Linked DNA regions of Homo sapiens. The protein of the gene in region 3 purifies or fractionates together with the protein of the main gene of each other region. This does not show direct contact. Each region holds a gene or a part of one and is shown on either strand. Other genes may lie near its edges. The genes, in order: CUX1, TFRC, LAMP1, ECE1, LEMD3, STK17B and MIOS.

Evidence for each region.
Region 1: the proteins of LAMP1 (region 3) and CUX1 purify together in Homo sapiens (affinity purification with mass spectrometry; 2 studies listed by BioGRID and IntAct, with this or other methods). This does not show direct contact.
Region 2: the proteins of LAMP1 (region 3) and TFRC purify together in Homo sapiens (affinity purification with mass spectrometry; 2 studies listed by BioGRID and IntAct, with this or other methods). This does not show direct contact.
Region 4: the proteins of LAMP1 (region 3) and ECE1 purify together in Homo sapiens (affinity purification with mass spectrometry; one large-scale study listed by BioGRID and IntAct). This does not show direct contact.
Region 5: the proteins of LAMP1 (region 3) and LEMD3 purify together in Homo sapiens (affinity purification with mass spectrometry; 2 studies listed by BioGRID and IntAct, with this or other methods). This does not show direct contact.
Region 6: the proteins of LAMP1 (region 3) and STK17B purify together in Homo sapiens (affinity purification with mass spectrometry; 2 studies listed by BioGRID and IntAct, with this or other methods). This does not show direct contact.
Region 7: the proteins of LAMP1 (region 3) and MIOS purify together in Homo sapiens (affinity purification with western blotting, with the first as the bait; one study listed by BioGRID). This does not show direct contact.

Annotation. Positions count from the first base shown.
Region 1 is NC_000007.14:102,198,626-102,202,125, forward strand, and holds part of CUX1 (Homeobox protein cut-like 1), read left to right. Parts: intron 1-176; coding exon 177-242; intron 243-1,445; coding exon 1,446-1,547; intron 1,548-2,734; coding exon 2,735-3,500. UniProt on the Homo sapiens protein: May be involved in intra-Golgi retrograde transport.
Region 2 is NC_000003.12:196,061,591-196,065,090, reverse strand, and holds part of TFRC (transferrin receptor protein 1), read left to right. Parts: intron 1-662; coding exon 663-782; intron 783-2,151; coding exon 2,152-2,237; intron 2,238-2,445; coding exon 2,446-2,509; intron 2,510-3,500. UniProt on the Homo sapiens protein: Cellular uptake of iron occurs via receptor-mediated endocytosis of ligand-occupied transferrin receptor into specialized endosomes. Endosomal acidification leads to iron release.
Region 3 is NC_000013.11:113,303,739-113,307,238, reverse strand, and holds part of LAMP1 (lysosome-associated membrane glycoprotein 1 precursor), read right to left. Parts: intron 1,606-3,500; exon of another isoform or gene 1,441-1,605; coding exon of another isoform or gene 1,437-1,440; intron 755-1,436; coding exon 633-754; intron 1-632. UniProt on the Homo sapiens protein: Lysosomal membrane glycoprotein which plays an important role in lysosome biogenesis, lysosomal pH regulation, autophagy and cholesterol homeostasis.
Region 4 is NC_000001.11:21,255,964-21,259,463, reverse strand, and holds part of ECE1 (endothelin-converting enzyme 1), read left to right. Parts: intron 1-624; coding exon 625-771; intron 772-1,873; coding exon 1,874-1,939; intron 1,940-3,325; coding exon 3,326-3,500. UniProt on the Homo sapiens protein: Converts big endothelin-1 to endothelin-1.
Region 5 is NC_000012.12:65,239,083-65,242,582, forward strand, and holds part of LEMD3 (inner nuclear membrane protein Man1), read left to right. Parts: intron 1-846; coding exon 847-948; intron 949-1,053; coding exon 1,054-1,156; intron 1,157-1,826; coding exon 1,827-2,005; intron 2,006-3,500.
Region 6 is NC_000002.12:196,154,579-196,158,078, forward strand, and holds part of STK17B (serine/threonine-protein kinase 17B), read right to left. Parts: intron 2,074-3,500; coding exon 1,861-2,073; intron 466-1,860; exon of another isoform or gene 390-465; intron 1-389. UniProt on the Homo sapiens protein: Phosphorylates myosin light chains. Acts as a positive regulator of apoptosis.
Region 7 is NC_000007.14:7,573,384-7,576,883, reverse strand, and holds part of MIOS (GATOR2 complex protein MIOS), read right to left. Parts: coding exon 3,115-3,500; intron 2,787-3,114; coding exon 2,688-2,786; intron 1-2,687. UniProt on the Homo sapiens protein: As a component of the GATOR2 complex, functions as an activator of the amino acid-sensing branch of the mTORC1 signaling pathway. The GATOR2 complex indirectly activates mTORC1 through the inhibition of the GATOR1 subcomplex.

The DNA.
Region 1 (3,500 bases), on a different chromosome or scaffold from region 3:
GGCCGGTCAGCCAGGGAAGGGCCTCTCAGAAGATTCTAGAAACTCCCGAGTTGCACAGGCAGCCCTGAGCCCTTTCTTTAGTGACAGGCGGCTCAGATTTCATGTCACACAGCCCATATCGTCAACACCACCATTCCCCTGATTGTTTTGTTCTTACCACACTTGTTTTTCAACAGAGAATCCAGGCCAGAGCCTGAACAGACTATTTCAGGAAGTACCGAAACGAAGAAATGGGTCTGAAGGTATGTTGCAGGCAGGCGTTTTCTTTGCAGTCAGTCACCTAGGGAAGCAGCATGTCCTTAGCTGTGTATTTGGGTTAAAACTGTGCAGTGTGATTCTGGCCTGGAACCTGATGGAAAAACAGCTAGTAAGTATAAAACAAGGCACGGGTTCAAGCACACCCAGCCCCTTCCTCCCGAGCTGCCTGCCCTCTCCCAAGCACAGGCGGGGGTGAGAAGAGGCATTGCTAAGCTAAGCCCCCCGAGTCTGAATCCCAGCCCACTTCAGATCCTAATTACCCGGTCCCCCGTTTTTCTCAGACGCAGTTGAAAAAATAACAGCGGTTGCTCTGAGAAAAGTCAGGTGACCCGTCAAATTAAATACTGCTGCTTCCTCGTATTTTTAACTCGGAAACACACTCAAGGTCCTATGGAACGGACGCATCCCACATCGTCCCGGTGGCATACTTGTTTTTAAATGGTGGTATACTTGTTTTGAATGCAGTGGTTCCTATTTAGGAAGGTAGTAAGAAATTAAACTATCCGGGTGGCTTCCCGAAAGAGCTGGGGCCAGCCCCTGGGCCATAGTAGCCTCATTTCGTCGGCACGTGTGCCTGCACAAAACATCACCATGTGGCCGAAAGAATCCATCCTCCCCACTTAGGAATTTCTGCAGGCTCCTTTCCTCGTATGTAAATTTTAAAAAGATATTATGTGATAATAGGTGCAAACAATTTTTTAAGTTAAGCCTTTCTTCACCCTGTGCCTCTGAATGATTGATAGACAATCAGCCTCAAACCCTCTGCCCTCCTTTTCCGTTTATCCTGTGTGGGACCCCAGCATCCAATAAACATCTAACCCCGAGGAGAGTCAGTCCCAAGCCACAGCAGTTGCTTCTAAGTGACTCATGAGAAACATTGCCTTTTAATCACTCGCCTTTTATATATATGGATTAAATGATCGGTTCTCCCGGGTACTAACCCACGGGTGGTGTCCGGCTTTGGCAGAGTAACATTGACCGTAAGGTCAAATGAGCAGGAAATCCCTCCTGCCCGGTGTCGCTGTGAAGTTGCACTCACAGCAAACACAGGCCACTGGGAGGCCACATCTGCCTCCTTGTGTCACCAGCCCCCACCCGGGGCTATATATCAGAATGACGTCTTCGCGCAGCGCTGATTTTTGTCCGGGGTTTGGGTTTGATGTCATTGGCGCAACTTCTCCCCACAGGTAACATCACCACCCGGATCCGAGCCTCGGAGACTGGCTCTGATGAAGCCATCAAGTCCATCCTAGAGCAAGCCAAGAGGGAGCTCCAAGTGCAGAAAACTGGTACAGCTTCCATTTCTTCATCCACTGTCTTCAAACTTAATTAAGAGAATTGTCATGAGTGCTCTGGTCAGCAGTAATTAACTATTTTTTTTTTAAACAATAATGAATGCCTGTTCTCAAGCATTTAGGCACGTAGAGAGAAGCAGGTCTGTGTGATCTGTATTTGCCTAATAGTTACCTTTTTTTTTGAGATGCAGTCTCTCTCTGTTGCCTGTGCTGGAGTGCAGTGGCACGATCTCAGCTCACTGCAACCTCTGCCTCCCGGGTTTAAGCGATTCTCCTGCCTCAGTCTCCCGAGTAGCTGGGACTATAGACATGTGCCACCATGCCCATGATATTTGTGTTTTTAGTAGAGACGGGGTTTTACCATGTCGGCCAGGCTGGTCTCGAACTCCTGACCTCCAGTGATCCTCCCACCTCGGCCTCCCACGGTGCTGGGATTACAGGTGTGAGCCACCGCGCCTGGCCCCTAGTTGTAATTATTCACAGAAATTACGCTCCTTAACTTTGACAGAACCACTTGCATTTCAGAATATAGCACAGGAAAATGAATACCAAGTATAAAAATTATCAGAGGTCAGGCGCGGTGGCTCACACCTGCAATCCTGGCATTTTGGGAAGCTGATGGGGGAGGATGACTTGAGTTCAGGAGTTTAAGACCAGCCTATGCAACACAGTGAGAGACCTTGTCTCTTAAAACACTAGCCAGGCATGGTGGCATGCACCTGTGGTCCCAGCTACTTGGGAGGCTGAGCTGGGAGGATTGCTTGAGCCAGGGAGGTGGAGGGTGGGTACAGTGAGCCGTGATCGTGCCACTGCGCTCCAGCCTGGACAACAGCGAGATCCTGTCGCTAAAAAAAAAAAAAAAAAAAAAAAAAAAAATTCTCGGGGAAAGGAGCCCCAGGAGGGCAGGTCGGGGAGCACTTTCACTGACACCCCCTTTATTACCCTCTACATCTGTGTGTATACCAAAGGCCACCAGGTCATCAAGCTGTAGTGTCAGGCCCTGGTCCTTGGTTGAGACAAGATGCCTGAATGTTTCACTGACAGGGGCCATGCTGGGGAAATACACAGTGTGGTTCTCCCAAATAACCCACACTTTGCAGTAGGTCAAGTTAGGATGAGAAGCATGTCCCCAGCTGAAGGGGGCCGCCCTGCCACACTCTCACCCCTGTTTCTCCATGCAGCAGAGCCGGCCCAGCCTTCCTCCGCATCCGGCAGCGGGAACTCTGATGACGCCATCCGCTCCATCCTGCAGCAAGCCCGCCGGGAGATGGAGGCCCAGCAGGCTGCCCTCGACCCTGCCTTAAAGCAGGCACCACTGTCCCAGAGTGACATCACCATCCTCACCCCCAAGCTTCTGTCCACCTCGCCCATGCCCACCGTGTCCAGCTACCCACCTCTCGCCATCTCCCTGAAGAAGCCCTCCGCAGCTCCTGAGGCCGGTGCCTCTGCTCTGCCGAACCCCCCGGCCCTCAAAAAGGAGGCCCAGGACGCCCCCGGGCTGGACCCCCAGGGAGCAGCCGATTGTGCACAAGGGGTCCTGAGACAGGTGAAAAATGAGGTGGGCCGCAGCGGTGCCTGGAAGGACCACTGGTGGAGCGCGGTGCAGCCGGAGAGAAGAAATGCCGCCTCCTCCGAGGAGGCCAAGGCCGAAGAAACGGGCGGCGGGAAAGAGAAGGGCAGCGGTGGCAGCGGAGGTGGCAGCCAGCCTCGGGCCGAGCGCAGTCAGCTCCAGGGACCCTCGTCGTCAGAGTACTGGAAGGAGTGGCCCAGCGCTGAGTCCCCATACTCCCAGAGCTCAGAGCTGAGTCTGACCGGGGCCAGCCGCAGCGAGACACCACAGAACAGCCCCCTGCCATCCTCCCCGATCGTGCCCATGTCCAAGCCCACCAAGCCCTCGGTCCCCCCGCTGACCCCCGAGCAGTACGAGGTCTACATGTACCAGGAGGT
Region 2 (3,500 bases), on a different chromosome or scaffold from region 3:
GGGTTTCTCCATGTTGGTCAGGCTCCATGAGGTCAGAGCTCCTGACCTCAGGTGATCTGCCTCCCTCAGCCTCCCAAAGTGCTGGGATTACAGGCATGAGCCACCGCGCCCAGCCTATGTGTCAGTTTTATTGGGAGGTAATAAGGCCCTAGGAAATTCTTGTTAAAAATTGACCATTATGACTAGAAAATCTATTCTAAGTTATTGACTAGACCAGTGATAAGCAAATTTCTTAAGGGGGCAGATAATAAACCTTTTGCCAGGCTATACAGTCTCTCTTTTAGCTGTTCAACTCTGTGGGAGCAAGAAAACAGGCACAGACTGTGCGTAGTGAATGGGCATGCGGGCTGTAGTTTGCCAGTCCCTGGAGTTAACTTTAAATGCAATCAAACAGCCAACACTTACTAAGAAATAAGTCCTTGGACTTAAGTAGTCAGTAAATTTAATTAGTAGTGTAGGAAAAAAGTAGCTCTACTAGTAAGGTAAAATTAATATTCTCATGTGAATTTTTAATTCCCAGAGTTTTTAGTCAGATTTGAAGTAAGGCTCTTTTATCCTTAATACATATACTGTGCTTTTACCTTTCTACTGATGTGCTAATTCTAGAAAAGTTTAGAAGCTGATTATATAAGTTCTTTCTTCCTCTTTTTTCTTTTTTAAAGATCACTATGTTGTAGTTGGGGCCCAGAGAGATGCATGGGGCCCTGGAGCTGCAAAATCCGGTGTAGGCACAGCTCTCCTATTGAAACTTGCCCAGATGTTCTCAGATATGGTCTTAAAAGGTAGAGTACAAATTTTGATTCTTTTGAATATTGGTGCACTGCATACAGTTCTAGATGTTATACTGTGCTTTGCTCACTTTGCCTGCATTCCTGTGGTTCTCATGCTAGACTCTAGTTCTTAAATACAAGGCAGATTGTCTTTTGTTGTAGCTGCCTTTTCCTTTGAAACAGCTTTCCATAAAGTGTCTTAACTGTGCTAGAAATCACCAGTTTCTTTGAGACAGTGGAGTTACTGAGCCCTAGTGCTTAGTGTGGTGGATCCAGAGTGATAAGGTGGATCATAGTCCCTAAGCAATCTATTTGAAAGCAGTAGCATACCTCTCTACTCATGTACTGAGGCCTAACAGCTATTGAAATTTTGTTCTGTTTATTCATTTATTCATTTTTTGAGACAGAGTTTCACTCTGTTGCCCAGGCTGGAGTGCAGTGGTGTGATCTCACTTAGCTCACTGCAACCTCTGCCTCCCGACTTCAAGCAATTCTCCTGCCTCAGCCTCCTGAGTAGCTGGGATTACAGGCACCCACAACCACACCCGGCCAATTTTTGTATTTTTACTAGAGACAGGGTTTCGCCATGTTGGCCAGGCTAGTCTCCTGACCTCAAGTGATTCACCCGCCTCAGCCTCCCAAAATGCTGCTAGTGAGCCACCGTGCCCTGCCTCTTTTGTTTATTTTTGAGCCTTTCTGTCCTACTTTCCACTCTTTCACACTCCTACCCACCCACACATTCAAAATCACGTCACATTCTTGAATCTTTGGGTCTTAGGGCAAACTGCAATGCTTAACTTTAATACAGAGTACATTAATGGAGAAAAAGATACAGTGAGGGAAGTGGGAGGGATGGAGGGCAGTGTGATACATGTAACCTCAAAAGGTGCTGTCACAAATATAGTTTCTCTGCAAACTCTTCTTGTAACTTAAATTTGTGAATTTTTATTTTATTTTAGAATTATTTTTTTAAAAATCCAATGTTTGGATTTACCTCTGAAGATTTTTCTCAAGATGTGCATCATCATGCTTACACTGTTTTCAATGATCTCTGGGTCCAGAAGTTAAGGAACTCCAAGAATGAAATTGTGAAAGGGTGACTACTGGCCCCTGCTATGTACTCAAAATCTTATTTGCAGATCTCCTATCTTGCTCTTTGTAGGTTACTTTAAAAAAAATTATTCCTATTCTTTTATTCTTTTACCTGGGGTCTCAAAAAAAGATTTTGTTAGTTTTTTTTTTCTTTTTTGGCTCAGAAAAAAAAGATTTTGGAATCTGCTATCTTGGAATTAGACCTTCTGATTCATCTTAAGTGGGATACCTTCCATCCTTGTCTGTGTATAACCTTTCCTCAGGTAAAGCTAACTTTTTTCTCTTTCAGATGGGTTTCAGCCCAGCAGAAGCATTATCTTTGCCAGTTGGAGTGCTGGAGACTTTGGATCGGTTGGTGCCACTGAATGGCTAGAGGTATTCTTTATCATCCCTTCCCATATTGGACACGAGCTTGTGGGCTTAGGCTGTTGTCCAGAAGTGATGTTTTTATAGGTTTGATTTTACCACTTTTGCCTTTGCGTTTAGTCTCAGTAGAGTCCAGAATTGAAAATGAATCCCTAATGCTACTGTATGTGATAAATAAACAGATTTATACTTATTAGTGTTTTCCCTTCTCTTCTAGGGATACCTTTCGTCCCTGCATTTAAAGGCTTTCACTTATATTAATCTGGATAAAGCGGTTCTTGGTAAGTATCCCTTTCATTAGCTGTGTATGAATTCAGGTAAACTTTTTTGAGATGGAGTTTTGCTCTTGTCGCCCAGGCTGGAGTGCAATGGCACGATCTCGGCTCACTGCAACCTCTGTCTCCCAGATTCAAGCGATTCTCCTGCCTTAGCCTCCTGAGTAGCTGGGATTACAGGTGCTCACTACCACACCCAGCTAATTTTTTGTATTTTTAGTAGAGACAGGGCTTCACTATGTTGGCCAGGATGGTCTCGAACTCCTGACCTCAGGCGATCTGCCTGCCTCGGCCTGGGATTACAGATGTGGGCCACTGTGCCTGGCCAGATAAACTACTTTGAAGTGGAAGAAAGCTTTTTTTTTTTTTTGAGACAGGGTCTCACTGTATTGCCCAGGCTAGAGTGCAGTGGCACAATCTTGGCTCACTGCAGCCTTGACCTCCTGGGCTCAGGTGATCCTCCCACTTCAGCCACCTGGCTAATTTTTTTTGTAGAGATGGGGTTTTGCCATGTTGCCCAGGCTGGTGTCAAACTCCTGAGTTCAAGCATTCTATGTCAGCTGCCCAAAATGCTGCGGTTACAGGCATGAGCCATTGCCCTCAGCCTGTATCTTAACCTTCCTTTAAATAGTCTGTCAAGTTACACAGTGAGCACAATTGCTTGTCTAGAACAGTGGGTAGTTCTCAGTGTGGCCCCCAGATGAGTAGCATTAGGAACTGTTACGAATGCAAACTGTCATGTCTACCCCAGACCTTTGAGTCAGAAATGGGAGTGTTGGTCTAAAAACTGGGCTTTTTGGGCTGGGCGCAGTGGTGCACGCCTGTAATCCCAGCACTTGGGAGGCCAAGGCAGGCGGATCACCTGAGGTCAGGAGTTCGAGACCAGCCTGGCCAACATGGTGAAACCCCGTCTCTACTAAAAATACCAAAATTAGCCGGGTGTGGTGGCGAGTACCTGTAATCCCAGCTACTCAGGAGGCTGAGGTAGGAGAATCAC
Region 3 (3,500 bases):
TTGTGGCGAGCTCAGATCGTACCACTGCACTCCAGCCTGGGCGACAAACCAAGATTCCATCTCAAAAAAAAAAAAGAAAACTAGAAAAATGTTGATGATAGGCTGGGCGCGGTGGCTCACACCTGTAATCCCAGCACTTTGGGAGGCCAAGGCGGGTGGATCACGAGGTCAGGAGACTGAGACCATCAAGGCTAACACAGTGAAACCCCATCTCTACTAAAAATACAAAATATTAGCTGTGCGTGGTGGCGAGCGCCTGTAGCCCCAGCTACTGGGGAGGCTGAGGCAGGAGAATGGCATGAACCCAGGAGGCGGAGCTTGCAGTGAGCAGAGATCGCGCCACTGCACTCCAGCCTGGGTGACAGAGCGAGACTCCGTCTCAAAAAAAAAAAAAAAAAAAAAAAGGAAAATGTTCATGATGAACAGTGAGGTGCAGCACATATACAGGTTTGTTACTGTGCCTGTGGCTATGGCACATGACAGCGCAGGTTACTGACAACACCAGAAGGAGATATGCAGATAGGAAAAGCACCATGTTCAGATGGGGCCATTTTTCAAAGACTTGGTTGAAATGTTAAAAATCATCTTTCCACACACACAAGGGAAGCATGAAGTGCCCTGGTGTTTCCTACCTTAGGGCCACTCTTGGTGTCGTAGTTCACTGAGAAGGCAGCAGAGAAGTTGGCCATTATGCACGCGGTCCCGTTGCCATTTTTCACCATAAACATTGCTGCTGACGCACAATGCATGAGGCCTGTCAATTCCAGGGAAGACGGAGACCATCAAAAACTGTCCAGAAAATACGACCGAGTATTTCCATTTTCCACAGCTGTAGCAGTGATGGCTTTTATTACAAGATTCCACTGTTTCTCTTTTTTTTTTTTTGAGACGGAGTCTCACTGTCGCCAGGCTGGGGTGCAGTGGCGTGATCTCAGCTCACTGCAACCTCCACCTCCCAGGTTCAAGCAATTCTCCTGCCTCAGCCTCCCAAGTAGCTGGAACTGCAGGCACGTGCCACCAAACCCAGCTAATTTCTGTTTTTAGTAGCGACGGGGTTTTGCCACTTTGGCCAGGCTGGTCTTGAACTCCTGACCTCAGGTGATCCACCCACCTTGGCCTCCCAAGGTGCTGGGATTATAGGTGTCAGCCACTGCACCCAGCCTCCACTGTGTTTCTTAAATTCAATGAACAACCAGACACATGGATTACGCAGCCAGTTCACCTGGTGCCCTGTCCCTTTCGGATACTATTCTGGAATTGTTATCTCTAAGCCCATCTGATTGAGTTTGCCAACCTAGTCTATTGCTATTTAGTGCTTTATTCCAGAACACTTATCAGGAAGGCACATGTCAATTTCTGCATCATCCTAGGCATACGCTGTTCCGCCTTTCTCAGAGGATCTCTGTAAGACGTGGTGCCTTGAAGGCACAACTCACCCATCTGCAGAAATCCATGGGAGAGGCTGCAGGATCTTTCACTGTGGTCCTCACCTGCTACTTAACGTCTGGTCAGTTTTATTTCTCATGGACTCAAAGTGCTGAGCTCTTTGCCCAATTTCAGAAAGGTCCTCACAGCACTACACATCGGTGGAGTGGCTTCCCTTCCCCATCCTGAAGCAAAGGGACAGAATGGAAGCTCTATAGGTCTTTCCAGCTGGACAGTGGTCACTGCTAAATATTTCCTCTCTGACTTACTCATACTCCACTTCCCTGATCAAGATGTTTGGCAACAAATGTAATCTGATCACTACGGTAGAGACACTGGTAATTGTACAAATTGCACGTTATTACACAGTTCTTTCATTACAGATTGGAAAACAGGTGTTTCTGCCTGTTCTAACGCCAAACACCTATCTGCCACCACTGGAATCCGTGCAGAAATGACATGCTTTCACTTGTCTCTGCCACTACAAGTTCGTGCATGCCAGTCCAGTGAGCACTCACCACCCAGGGGCTGATCTCACACTGCGTGAGCACAGCCTTCCAACCACACACACACCCGAGTCTCATCTGTCACTCTAAGTGTAAATGCAACTCAGGCACACTGTGAGGGCAGATATTGAAAGAGAGGATGCTTAGCTTTTCATTTAAAATCCTATTCCCTGGAAAAGTAATGGATTCCAATGAATCCGACTCATTTCAACCTTGGGTCTTTCACAAAATAAAATCTTTACAGCAACTGTTCTTCAAGCCTAAAGCGAAGCATATAACCAGAAGTAGTCCCACCTATCTTCCCTTTGGTAAAGGAAATACCAAAATCTATGTCCATAAAGAAAAGGTGCTGCCGGGCACAGTGGCTCACGCCTGTAATCCCAGCACTTTGGTGGGAAGCTGAGGCAGGTGGATCATGAAGTCAGGAGTTCAAGACCAGCCTACCCAACATGGTGAAACCTCGTCTCTACTAAAAATACAAAAATTATCTGGGCATGGTGGCAGGCGCCTGTAATCCCAGGTACTAGGGAGGCTGAGGCAGGAGAATCACTTGAACCAGGGAGGCCGAGGTTGCAGTGAGTCGAGATTGCACCACTGCCCTCCAGCCTGGGTGACAAGAGCAAAACTCTGTCTCAAAAAAAAAAAAAGAAAAAGAAAAGGTGCTACACGACAATGAAACAAAGTAGGGCGTGCAAGGAAACCTCCAATCTACTGTCTGCTTTGCTTGGTTTTTCAAGCCACACTCTGCAACACTGAGGCAGGATCATACTAACGGCATTTCCAATGAATCTAGAGAATCTAGGGAAGATTCTACCACTTATTTTTGACATAGTAAAGGTTTCTAAAAACAGACAAAATATTCTCACTCTTGTGAAAGATCAGATGAGTGTACAGAAGCTACAGCAGACGCCAGCAAGGCAGAAGCAGCGGACAGGCAGACACAGCAGACGCCAGAGACTTAACACTTGACTGGAGCTCAGCGTGGACAGGGAGACTGCCCACCCCGCCCTCAGGTGAGGAGTCACAGGGCCCACAGTCACCACTGACAACCCGGATGCCCACATGGGAGCAGCCATAGGCTGGCTTTTATTAAGCTGCCCTTTTATAAGTTTCCTCAAACACTTTTCACTGACCCGAAGCACTTCATTAGGAAATATTTCAAACTAAGTCATTTTTCAATTATACAATTTTTTTTTCACTTAGTAAATATGCTGAGGGTTTCAGCTTTTTTATTTTTATTTTTTAGAGACTGAGTCTCACTCTTGCCCAGGCTGGAGTGCAGTAGCCCTCCACCTCCCAGGTTCAAGCGATTCTCGTGCCTCAGCCTCCTGAGTAGCTGGGACTACAGGTTTGTACCACCATGTCTGGCTACTTTTTGTATTTTTAGTAGAGACGGGGTAGACAGGGTTTTGCCATGTTGGCCAGGCTGGTCTCCAACTCCTCGCCTCAAGTGATCCACCTGCCTCAGCCTCACAAAGTGCTGGGATTATGGGTGTAAGCCACCATGCCCAGCCAGGTCTCAGCTTTCAGAGGAAAACAAAGAAATATCATTTAAATAAATTTAAAGTA
Region 4 (3,500 bases), on a different chromosome or scaffold from region 3:
CAAGACCCCATCTCCAAAAAATTTAAAAATTAGCCAGGTGTGGTGATACACACCTGTAGTCATAGCTACTTAGGAGGATGAGGTGAGACAATCACCTGAGCCCAGGAGGTGGAGGCTGCAGTGAGTTGTGATGGCCCCACTGCACTTCAGCCTGGGAATCAGAGCAAGACTCCATCTCAAAAAAAATTTTTTTAAAATCCCAACTTTGAGACTAAAGTAGACCGTAATTTACCAACCTTCTTAAACATGTGGAGCCTTTTTTATCCCAGAGGCACAATTGAATTTATGTTTTGATATAATCACATTCACACAATTCATTATCCAAAATATAAACCGTGAACCGGGAAAAGTCTCTTTCCCATTCTCATCCCAGCCACCCAGGGAGCGGCTGGATTCATGCCTGGCTGCTTGGCTTGTCTAGGATAAGCCTTTGCTCCATCCATGGGTCTCCAGCTCATGGGTCGGAAACCCCCGATGAAGACCAATCCTTTCCTTTGCTCTTGAGGCTCAGAGAGGTCAGGCGACTGCTCCAGGGTCACAGAGCAAGTCAGCGGCAGAACCAGAATTCACATCTGGGTCTCCCCGCCACCTCATCACCTCCCTGCCTGCTCTCCCTCCCCACAGCTCGGGGGCTGGAACATCACAGGTCCCTGGGCCAAGGACAACTTCCAGGACACCCTGCAGGTGGTCACCGCCCACTACCGCACCTCACCCTTCTTCTCTGTCTATGTCAGTGCCGATTCCAAGAACTCCAACAGCAACGTGATCCAGGTGAGCTAGCTTGAACCTGCAGCGGTCGAGGGGGCGGGCACGACCTCTTCCTGTTTTGAGTTTAGCAGGACCTGGGGTGGGAGAGGGGCTTGCCCTGGGTGGGACGGCGGTCTTCTAGTTTCTGAGCCTGGGTTATTTCCAGAGGCCCCACTGGTGAGATCTTTGCAGGCTGCTGGCCTTGCGTAGATGGGCACTGCATACAGGTGAAACTTTGGGTGCTGATGGGTTTCCGTGGGCCCCAAGAATGATGTCAACTCCTGGGCACAGCTGAACCCACATCCTGGTTTCCCCCTCCTTAGCGTCTGCTCTTTGTAACTCTTCTTGGAATGGGTTTGAATCCATCTCTCCCTGTCAGAGCATGCCCCAGACAGAGGCTCAGCCTGCCCAGGGGAGCTCCAGCACTGGTCTGCCCCAACCTCCAATGCAGAAGTGAGAAACCCAGGCTGGGGGTCCTAAAAGCTGAGTTCCCAGCCCATCTCTACCATTCAGTCACTGTGTGACCTTGGGCAAGTGCCTCAACCTCTCAGAGCTACAGTTACCTTATAAATCAAATGGATTGCAATAACACCTGTCCTAGGTATGCCAAGATGTGGCCATGGGTGCCAATAGTAGCAAGCAGAATTTGACCCTCCCCTCCTGCTTGGCAGGCACTTGACCAGCACTGTCTTCTTGAATCCCCATTCTAGCTCTGAAGGTTAGGTTTTATTTTCCCTATTTACCTGAGAAGAAACCTGAGAATCAGAAAGGTTCAGTAACTTGGCCAAGATCACACAGCTTTTGAGTGACTCTTAACCACCTGGAAAGCGTTGGGGAGATAGAGGCACTTTGCCGAGGCAAGTAGCTGTTTAAAAAGGAGGGTGGCTCTGTCCAGCCCTTCTGAGGAGCCCAGGAGCCCTGCGGGGGGGGGCCACGTGGACAGGCAGGAATGTGTCATCCCGTCCCTGAGTGGGCTTCTCAGTGACTGTAGCCAGCAGTCCTGCTTCTCCAAGGGCCTGAGCTGGGCCTCTGCTGCCATGTGCCAGCCATTCCCAGGGCAGGAGGCCGTGCAGTGGATACACGCATTGCAACACGAATTCCCTCTCATGCCTGCTTCTCTTGCCAGGTGGACCAGTCTGGCCTGGGCTTGCCCTCGAGAGACTATTACCTGAACAAAACTGAAAACGAGAAGGTAAGCGTGCCTCTCCCCTCCCAGCCTGCCTCCCAGCACGGTCCTTCCTGCTCCGTGTCCACACCCACACCTGTGCAGGTCTTTGAAGCTAGGGGAGCCCAGGGGTGTCAGTGACCTGATGGGTGAAACAGGCAGACCCTGGCAGGGGAGGGACACCCCTAGGCTGGCTGTGTCACTCAGGCATCATGGACACAAGGGGCAAGAGACAGGTATCATTTGTCCTGGTTCTAGAGAGAGGCAGAGGCAGCAATAACAGCTACCACAATTCGCCTGGCCCTTTATACATCACCTGTGACCCTCCCATTAACCCTGCAGATACTGAACTTCATTTGCCTCATCTGTCAAACAGGAATTAGTTTTGTCTTGCCTTTTACAGAAGAGGGTATCAGGCTCAGAGATGCTAAGTGATCTGCTCAAGGTCACATAGCCAGTAAATGACGAGCCTGAGATTCACATCCGGATCCACGTGCTCCGAAGCCCATGGCTCTCCCTCCCCCTGGCCTGCCTCTTGTGATGCCTCTTGGGGCGACCTCACCTGGAACTCATTCATCTGTCCTTTCATCCTTCCGCCGGCATGTACTTGACCAAGCGCCCACAGAGTGCCTGATGCTGGGGAGATGGTAGCAGACAAGACCACCATAGCCTTCGTCCCACAGGGCCTGTGGTTTGGTCGGCGAGGCGGATATTATTTAACTAAGAGAAAGTGAAGCTGAGAAAGTCTACCGTGGAGACCTAATTCAGATCTTGGAACACGGGTGGGGGGTGGTCAGAAAAGATGCATTCTAAGAATGGAAAGACAGCCCCAGGACAAGCCCTGGAAGACAGGGACCAGCCCAGGTGGGGACCTGTGAGACGAGCCAAGACTTTGGGCTTTCTCCTGGAGGCTGTAGGGAAGCAGCAGAGAGACACGGCCCCGAGATCATTCTCAATGCTGTGTCTCCCACGGGTGTCTTCTTCTTTTTTTTTTGAGACAAAGTCTCTCTCTGCCGCCCAGGCTAGAGTGCCATGGCGCACAATCTGGGCTCACTGCAACCTCCTCCTCCTGGGTTCAAGTGATTCTCCTGCCTCAGCCTCCTGAGTAGCTGGGATTATAGGCACCTCCCACTATGCTCAGCTAATTTTTGTATTTTTAGTAGAGACGGGGTTTCGCCATGTTGGCCAGGTTGGTCTCAAACTCCTGACCTTAGGTGATCCACCCACCTCAGCCTCCCAAAGTGCCAGGATTACAGGCGTGAGCCACCACACCTGGCCCCACGGGTGTCTTGGGGGCACTGTGCAGCCCCCTGGCTCCCTGTGCCGGACTTGGCTGGCCAAGCCCCCCACCAACTCTCGTCCAGTGGATAGTGGGGGGGCAGCCACTGACAGTTTGGGGTATGGGCCCTGCAGGTGCTGACCGGATATCTGAACTACATGGTCCAGCTGGGGAAGCTGCTGGGCGGCGGGGACGAGGAGGCCATCCGGCCCCAGATGCAGCAGATCTTGGACTTTGAGACGGCACTGGCCAACATCACCATCCCACAGGAGAAGCGCCGTGATGAGGAGCTCATCTACCACAAAGTGA
Region 5 (3,500 bases), on a different chromosome or scaffold from region 3:
AAGTAGAATTGAAAAATACAAAAATTGAGCTTATTTTTAAATAATAAAGTGTTATAAAGTTTATTAAAATTTAGTTTTTAAAATGTAATTTACCTACATTTAAAATTTTTATCATTTTTTAATTGATAATAGGGATTTAGGTGAGAGTTGTTTTTTCATTCTTTCTTTCTTCTTTAAAAATAATTCATTTTGGCCAGCTTTAGTGGCTCACACCTGTAATCCCAGCACTTTGGGAGGCAGGAGGATTGCTTGCACTCAGGAGTTTAAGACCAGCCTGGGAAGCATAGACCCTACCTCTACAAAAAAATTTTTAAAATTAGACAGGCATAGTGGCACGTGCCTGTAGTCCCAGCTACTTGGGAAGCTGAGGTAGGAGGATTTCTTGAGCCCAGGAGTTGGAGGCTGCAGTTAGCCATGATTGCACTACTGCCCTCCAGCCTGGATGACAGAGTAAGACCCTATCTCAAAAACAACAACAACAAAAGAAAAATTCATTTTACTTAAAGTAAGATTTAGTATGTTTAATCTCATGAGGTTCACTTTTCTAGTCGTTTTATGCTTCAAAGGAAAAAAGTTTGTGAAACATAGTTATATATATATATTTTTAAATAGTAGTTAGAATTTAAATGTTCACTTATCAGTGTAATGGAAGAAATGCTTTTTTCTAGAAAGTGAATCTTTGGAAAATGTTCAGTATTAAATTTTTTTATGTAGTTTTAATTATATAGCTAATTCAGCCATCTGTCTTGAAGGTTCATTCCGTTGTGGCAGTTAAAATAATCACTGAAATATTATTGAATGATATTGACCACAATTTTTAAAATACAAAGTATATTAATATTACAGGTGTAGTGATGGTTTGTGTCGTTCTGCGTTACATGAAATATCGATGGACAAAAGAAGAGGAGGAAACAAGGCAGATGTATGATATGGTGGTAAAGATTATAGGTATGATATTTGTAAGAATCTCAACTATTTCTAGAAGAGTCATTGCATGATTAAACTACATTATGTCAAGTGATTGATTCATTTGTAAATTTTATTTATTTTTAGATGTTTTACGAAGTCATAATGAAGCCTGCCAGGAAAACAAAGATTTACAACCTTACATGCCTATTCCACATGTACGCGATTCCTTAATACAGCCTCATGACAGGTGTGTTCAAAGCATTATGAGTTCAAGTAAATCAGAAAATTTAAGTGCTTTCTGCAGTATTGAAAATTATATTGAGAGCTGTGACCCTTCTCAACTAGACTTGCTTACTGCACAGGTTTTTTTTGGTTTTGCTTTGTTTTTGTACTTTATACTCTCTTTCTAAATTCTCTTCCATTCTCCTGATTTTGAGTGACACCTGGATTTCTAAGTCATTCTCATTCCTAGGCATTCTTGATTCTTTGTTGTTAGTCTCCATCTTATTTCCTTTAATTTCATCTTGATAAAGAAATAGATGACAGCCAGTGGCTGGTGTTTTACTAATGTTTTTTAAGTACTAACTTTATTATTAATGAAGCTTTTAAAGTAAAAACTAAAATGCAACTTTTTGAAAATAAAAGATAATTCCATATCCTGAAGCAGCATCTTGACCCTAGCAACACATAAAGCCAGTGGAGCTTTTGGGGAAAAAAAATACAGATGTTTGTGCTCTAGCTCTGGAAATTGAAACTCAGAAAATCTGAGATGAGATATAGGCATCTAAATCTTCTTTGAACAAACTCCATGAGTAGTGGTAAGAACAGCTAGAGTTAACTATTACCTCAGATACTAATATTTCAAAAAGATGACAAGCCAAGATGATAGTAAATTTGCCATTTTGTTCACATGATAGGAAAAAAATGAAGAAAGTCTGGGATAGAGCTGTTGACTTCCTTGCTGCTAATGAGTCTAGAGTTCGCACGGAAACACGAAGAATAGGTGGTGCAGATTTTCTGGTTTGGCGGTGGATCCAGCCTTCTGCATCCTGTGACAAAATATTAGTTATACCTTCTAAAGTATGGCAAGGTCAAGGTATGTATTTTTAAACATCAAAAAAGTAATTTTCTTCTAATTTTTCAAAATGACAAATATGTGTTAAGTGAAACAGTACAATTCAAAGATGTATGAAGGCAAAACTCTCTCGTTCTGTTTCGTAGAAGGAATCAGTGTTAGCTTCTTATGTATCCTTCCACACTTTTATCTTTGCTAATGCAAACATAAATGGTTTATCTTTAATAAAGATGAATATTCCTTGAATCTTGCCTTTTTCACTTAATGAAGCAACTTAGTATTATATATATTAACTGCATTCTTTTCATCTAATTTCTTTATGTAAATAAGACACATAATTTATGTTATATATACAATAAAATATATATAAACTATATATGTATATAAGTGAAGTCATAACTTTTTAACTGCTCTTTTTTTTCCAGTTTTTGCCTGCCTCCTCTTACTAAGACCTTTCTATTTATATATTCCTCCTGCCAAGTAACTTTTGTGGGTATCTTTCCATATTTTTCTTAATGCCTACATAGTTTCAAAAACATGTATAAATAAGAAAGGGGTAAGTTTATAGGGGGTTTTGAAGATTGGCTGTCATATGTACCCAAACCTTTACTACACAGAAAAGCAGAAAACAATGCATCAGAAAATTATGACTTTTTCCCTATAAAAGTATGTCAGTATTTGCTAAACATAGTATTTGTGGAAAAGGTAAGTTGTTTTGGACATGCAATACAAAGTCCAGTCACTCCTTTTTTATTCTCCAATTAATTTTCACTTTGAAAAAGCTTGAATAAGAGGCTTCTTTAAACATGGCATAAAAGTGATGCTCTGTCAGGGTAAACAGCTAAAGCAGGCAGGGCTTAATACCTGGGTGATGGGTTTGAGTTGATAGGTGCAGCAAACCACTATGACACACGTTTACCTATGTAACAAATCTGCATGTCCTGTACATGTATCCCAGAACTTAAATTAAAAAAATGATGCTTTCATGTTGCCAATGATTATACTATTTCCTCTAAATGATGCATGCATTTCAGTTTCCCTATAAACTGAAAATAGAGAATTCCTTATTTTACTTGACCTCTTAACAGTGTTTGACAGTTCAGCCCTCCTTGAAACTTTCTTCACTGGGATTTGGGGATGCCACCTTCTTCTGTTTTTTTTCTCCTACCTCAGACTTTTTCTTCAGTCCTTTTCTAGATTATCCTCTTTTTCTTCACCTCTAGGTGTTAGAGTTTCTCAAGGCCATCTTTTTTTTCCCACTCTGCCATTTCTCCCTAGATAATCGTCTTGCTGTGACTTAATTTACCATATTGGGATAACTCCCAAATTTTTTATTTTGAATGAAGTCTGGTTTTCAGATTTTTGTACCCAACTATATATTTCTGTACTAGGAGGTGGGCACCACAGATTCAACATGTACACCAGCCTGATCCTCTTCAGTGTTCCTAGTCTAGTTAATGATACCTTTCCTGAGTTGATTCTGCCATAAACTTAGGGATAATTCTTAATCTCTCCT
Region 6 (3,500 bases), on a different chromosome or scaffold from region 3:
AACTTTTCTATAGATTTGGAATTTTGTAAAATAAGAGTTGGGGAAGAAAAAGTGTGTAGGATGATTTGAGGACAGAATTGACTGGGTGATAGTTATTAAAGATTCCACCGTTTTAATTTCACCATATAAAAATTATGCCACACTACTAAAACAACTAAACCTGATTAAATTTTTACCTTCAACTGAGACTACTAAATGTGACAATGCCACCCCAAAAGCGGAAGGCATAGTAATTAAGCCGAAGTTCTAGCAATAAATTTTAGTGGGTCTTAGTCACTCTGGTAAGAAATGTAATACATTAATCTACTTAAACATTTTCTGAGTGCTTGCTACATTTCAGCCAGAGGTATAGAGATCAGTAAGTTCTGCCAGTTTACTGGGTAAGGTACCTGAGTCAATTTTCCGGAGTATGAACAAGGTCCATCCATAAAATGTCTCAAATCTTTCCGATGTATTTTGTCGTTGCTGTTTGGATGAACCCCCAAAAGAGGATTTTATGAAAATAGTCAATGTTCTTATGTATATTCATCCTCCAAACCTAGTATTCCACTACTGTTTTGACAAATGTTAGCTACTTTTTACACACTTCAAACATGCAGATGTTATGCAAGTAGGTAACTTTTTAAAGGTCAGCTGAAGAATCTTTGACAAAAATAATTACAAAATATATGAAAACTGAAATCATATTGGTAGTATCTTGGCCTTTTCTGCAATTCTAATTTATTTTGAAAGTGCTATATAACACGCCTTAAGACGGTTCTGGGAAATGTACATAGTATTCATTCTTAAATGAACTACTTGTCAGTTTAACATTTTGCAAAATCTTCATTTTCATTCACAAGTTGATTCCAGCCAATCTATTTCGTGGAACAAAAACATTAATTTTAAAATAACTAAATACAAAAATAAGGTTAATATACCTTTAAATTTAAAAAGGCAATGATGCAAGTTAGTTACTAAAAAGAATTACTATAGTTAGCAATACATTTTTTACTAAAATAAACACTTATCTCTTCTTGGTTTATCATAAAATATATTTACTTCATTAAAAACTATTGGCACCCAAGGTATACTAAACATAAATCTAGCTGATCTCTTCCAGTTGTTGCAGATGTTCAAACACATTTTACATCCTTAGAATAAACGTGACAGACAATCATGCAACAAAGGCACTCTGTAAGAGTCACATGTCAATATACTAGGTAACAAACCGGTTACCTTAACAATCCTCTACCCCTACCACCTGGTGAACTGTAGAATACTGGGGGTGTTTTCACTTTTTCACAGACTTGTGGCAAGAGATATATTTATTATTGCTACAACTAACATAGTGCTTTACACATTACATATACCAAATGTATTTCTTTAACAAACAATGTATTAAGCAAAGTTTTATGCAGTTTACCTTTCTATTCTCCTTATTTTCTTGAAGGTATTTTTCAAATAGATGAAGAAAATATACAAATTACTTCAATTCTCCTTTCTATTCTTATTTTCTTGAAGGTATTTTTCAAATAGATGAAGAAAATATACAAATTACTTCAATTCTATCTGCCCATCAGATTGTGTTCCAGAAAAATTCAATCAATTAGCCATTAAGAAAATAATGTATATTCATTTCTCCACATTCCTCAAATGTTGTATTTGTCATTTGCTTATTCTGTGCTGTTAGTTTTTGTGTATGTGCCCGAGGCTATACATTTAGTCTTATGAAAATATCTGAATATAAATTAGGTCCCTTTTACATTTTATTAACAGGAATCTTTACAAGTTCTTGTCACACCTTTATCATTCTTATTCTTGACATTTTAATCATCTTTTCATACCAACTAAAATAGGTACTATTTAGTATATACTTACTATTCCAATATCAAAATGATTTCACTTGTATTTTCATAGACCTCATGAAGATTAATAACACGGGGACAAGACTTTGCCAATTCAAGCACAGCAATCTCGTGTAAAATTTCTGCTCGACAATCCTGTCCTCTTCTTCTCTTTTTTAGAAATTTTGCAGCATATTCTTGGCCAGTAGATTTTGATATACATTGTCTAACCACAGCAAATTTTCCTCTGGGGGAAGATGAGAACAATCAATTTTAATTTTTCTGCAGAGAACAACGTTAGTATATTACAGATTCTGTTATACCTCCAACTTAAAGTCAATTCTTTGAAATATCTGTGTCATTAGGAATTTATCTTTGTTCTCTAAATTGATTCAAATATCATACGTACTTTTATAAAATTTATAGTGCTATCACGTACAAATGTAAATGGCAAACTATAACAACAGGATAAGACAGAATTATATTTATTCTTCACTACTAAAATGATACATTATCTTGGGAGGCCGAGGCAGGCAGATCACTTGAGGTCAGGAGCTCAAGACCAGCCTGGCCAACATGGCAAAACCCTGTCTCTACTAAAAATATAAAAATCAGCCAGGCGTTGTGGCGCATGCCTGTAATCCCAGCTACACAGGAGAATCTATTGAATCTGGGAGGCAGAAGTTGCAGTGAGCCAAGATCATGCCACTGTACTCCAGCCTGGGTGACAGAGTGAGACTGTCTCAAAAAAAAAATAAAAAAAAGATACATTATCATTGCAGGGAAATAATCTCATTTGCACACCAACTCCATGCCATGCTCTTGATATAAATTATTGTGTTTAAGTATCACAACAATCCTATATAATAAATGCTCTCCTGTTCTTCACACCTCAGAGAAGATATGTAATTTAGTCAAGGTAAAGATTTAAACTCAGGTCTATTTCCAAAAACTGTACCCTTCATAGGGTATCATGTTAACTCTCTAATTAGAATAGCTTACCTTTAAATATAAGAAATTAAAGTGAATGCAAAAATGGGTATTTGACTTATTTAATTTTATTAGTAATTTTTCCTTTCAACACAATTTTTACCACCTTTGAAACTATCACAATTGTCAATTGTTTTAGCAATATGTCTCTTAGTAATGCTCAGTAGTCTTTGAAGCCTGTAACAGATAACTAAGGTATATGTGTCCTACAGAAAATATTCAAAGATACTTCATGATAAACTAAGAAAATAATGGTTATCACAGCTATGTACAAACACACCCATTAAGGTCATGTTTATCATTTTAGAAATAAGTATGCTTTTAGCTCTCTCCAATGGCAGTGCTTAGTACCTCTGCCAAAATTTAAAGACACCGAAAATTCATTTCTATTGGCATACGTGTTACTGTAAGTCTACAGCGGCCAAAAATTTATTTTCACAAAAGCCTAAAGCTATTCTGAGTCAAGGATTATTTTGGGAAATTAATAAAAGCTATTCTATTGACTGCCTACCCAGAAAAATATACACAAGCCCTTAAATAGGAAGTTTTACATATAATTCCAGAGGGTTTTCAGATCTTAAAGCCCATCCATAAACCTTATAAGGCTGAGTATAGGGGATCCAAAATTAAGAACCTCTACCTTAAATTTTGAATTACTCTCTGGATTCTGATACTAACAAATCA
Region 7 (3,500 bases), on a different chromosome or scaffold from region 3:
TCTTCTCCACCCCTTTATCTAATTAATCATTAAATTTTCTCCTATTCTCTAATGTATCCACATTTCTCTAGCTCCTCTGCTACTAACCTTGGTAAGGATAGCATCACGTCTTGCCTCCTTGCAGCAGGCTTCTATCTGATATCCCTACTATCAATCTTGATCCTTTTAAAACACAAATCTGTCACAAATCCATCTGTTTCCCCGTCTTACAAGATGAATCTCCCTAAATTCTTAACATGATTTCTAAGTCTTTCTTGAGTTAGCCCACTGCTTACCTTTCTAGCCTCCATTCTTTCCTCACTTCCTCTCTCATGCTCTGTTTCAGCCATAATAATGTGCTATGCTCTCTACCCTCTGGGTCCACTGCACATGCTGCTCCCTGTCTGGACCTTGTCTTTAACTGTACCTCCTCTGAGAAACCTCTAATCCCTGCAACCAGATTAGGAGTCCTTCCTGTAATTAACTGTCTGTTCTTCCCTATGTTATAACTGCCAGCTTACTTGTCTATATTCTAAACTAGAATATAAACTCCTCAAGAGCAGGGATGACATTGATCCTGCTCAATCTCCATGAGGGAAGAGATTTATGTATCTTCTTGAGAGTTATGTCTCTAGTTCCTAGGATAACTCCTGGCATATAGCATGCATGTAGGTAATAAATACTTGCTGAATGAATGAGCTTACTTCATATTGTAGTTGTAAAAATTAAAGTAACATGGGAAAAGCAACTAATTCATAGCAAGCACTTATATATATACTATTTGTTACCAAAATTAAAATTTAGCTGTATGCTCTAATAAACTTGTGTATTAGGTTACTGTGGACAAGATGGCTCAATGTGTTGACTTACCATGTGTTGATTATTAGAGATACAATTAGAGGAAAAGGTATGGCCAAATAAAACAGAAGACTGAAATCTAAGAGTGGCATATTTGACAGTATTTCTCTACTTTTCACCTTTGGGTAGTAGAAACAAAAATATCTATACCAAACAAAAAAAAAAAAGCTGAAAACCTAGCAATGAGAGAATGATGAATGAGGAAATCTTTCCAACAGTAGTGTTTCTTTAGTCTGGGTAGAGACTATTTTGACACAGGGGTGGGATACTCAGTTTGTCTCTAGTGCACCAGAAACATAAACATATTACATTTTCCCCTTTTGCTTTTCCTCAGATGCTGGCTTTTCCTTAAAATATATCAAAATACAAAAAACACAATAACCAACCTCTAAATAATTGAGTGCAGTGTGGCCTGATCTACTATATAGCTAAAACACTATAAATTCTATAAACTTGGTGTTTAATTCTTTGTAGCAATAGGCAATGGCTCTAAAATCTTGAACCATGGTACCAGGTTCATTTGTGGGAGTAAAACAGTATGTGTGCCCTTTTACCTATGTTAATAAAAACAGCAGCTTCTAACTAAACTTATTCATTTTACTATTTATAATAAAGGTTACTTTTTTTGGTGGAGGGCTAATACAAAAACAATAAAATCAAACTGATCAGTAAGTAGTCTACTGCATCTTTCAGTAAAGTGAACCAAAGTAATTTGAAAGACGTTAAAAAAACACTATAATGTAACAGTTTAATTAAAACACTTAACCTACTCTAAAATATTTTATTATTTTGTATTTTGTTTGTATGGTACTGATACAAGCTCCGTAAAAAATCAAATTGGATTTACTACTTCTATTACTGCTCTTTGACTAAATAATGTTAACTACTTTTCTAACAGCTTGACTTGGGCCCAAATTTGACTTACCAAAAGTTAGAGAACGAATCCTAGATCACAGAGATACAGGGTGAGCATCCCAAATCTGAAAACTGAAGTCCAAAAGGCTTCAAAATCTGAAACTTTCTAAGTGCTGAGATGATATTCAAAGGAAATGCTCATCGGAGCATTTTGGATTTCAGAATAGGGATGGTCAATCTCTAAGTATATAACGCAAATATTTCAAAATCTGAAAGTATCTGAAACATTTTTGGTCCCAAGCCATTTTGGATAAGGTATACTCAACCTGCAATTCTAATATAACCCATTATTCAATTCCAGTAAAAGAATAGGAACAACTGTTTAAAGCAGTCAGAAAAAAAAAAAAGTTTGGTTTTTGTCACTTTTATTCTTTAATAGTTTACCATACCAATTTTCAATCCTACATTAACTCACACGTTAATTAATTCATTCACTAATTAACCAAGGACTATATCAGGTATAATTCCTCCACGTTAGGCCATATTTCATATCATACTCCTTGCTGTTAGATGGCTCAATGAAAGTATTTGAGGAGCAAAATAAAAAGGGATCTCCTTCAATTAGAGATCTTTTTAGTTTTTAAGAAGCAAAATGTTGCGATAAAACCTGAACTAACAATCAGTAATCTGTAAATTGTCTAGTGTAAAACCTCTCAAAGTGGGTTTTCAAAAAAATAACATTGAATAAACGTGTGGATAGATTTAAGAAGATCAACATCACTTCAGAGAATTAAGACTCCCTGCAAAAAGGGTTTTGGATATAAATACAAGTATGCATTTAACTCAACAATACAATGAAATATCCAATCAGAAAACAAAAAAAATTATGTACATGATCCTGAAATAACTAGATAATTTCTGCCAAATGACAGGGGGCAAAATAAAAGTACAAAAGTTATAAACATATTGGAGAAAATGAAATAGAATTTTCTTACCCAACGATGACTTTACAATTGATTTAATTCCTGCATAAACCAATGATCCTTTGTTGCCTGGAGATTTCTGATCCATATCTTCTGTGTATTGCTTCATAAGTATTTAAATGCATAGGAAATACTAGTGATGCATGACAATATATTTCAAAGCTAAATTTATTTTGATTTGGAGCCAATTCATAATAAGTATCAGTGTAAATAAGGTGGTTCGACTCTATTGCAGAGATACACTTTTCTTCCTCCTACACAATCTACAAAGCAGTATTTCAAGTTCGAAAGTTTAGAACAATTTTACTTTATAATGTTAGTATTATGTAACTTGTATTTGTATATAAAACATTGAGCATATTTACAGACTGACCTTTTGGCAAACTTCAAGAACATTTCTACCTGATTCACCTCACAAAATTCACAATGAAAAGGATATAGTGCAGAGTATACCAGAGTGACTTGAGCTGTGGATCTTCATTTCCAGCTAAAATGTGGTTCCTCCACACCTGCTCTGTATCAAGTCCATACCTTGATAAAGCCCGAAGACGCATCTTCGTTGCTATATCTTTTTCTAAAGAATTATCATTTTCTTCTTCCGTACATTCATATAAATGACGACCACAAGCCCACATTAAAGATGTAATTGGGCTCCAGGCAAGAGATATCCTTTCAAAAACAGTGAAGTCTGACATTGTTCGGTTGGGAGTTACAACTATCATTCGATTTTGACTTGTTGGATGCCACGCAAAGGAAGCAATGTAATTGTCACAAGGTTGCACACTTCTTTCAATTATTGTGGGTTCAGTTTCATCCCCAATGGGA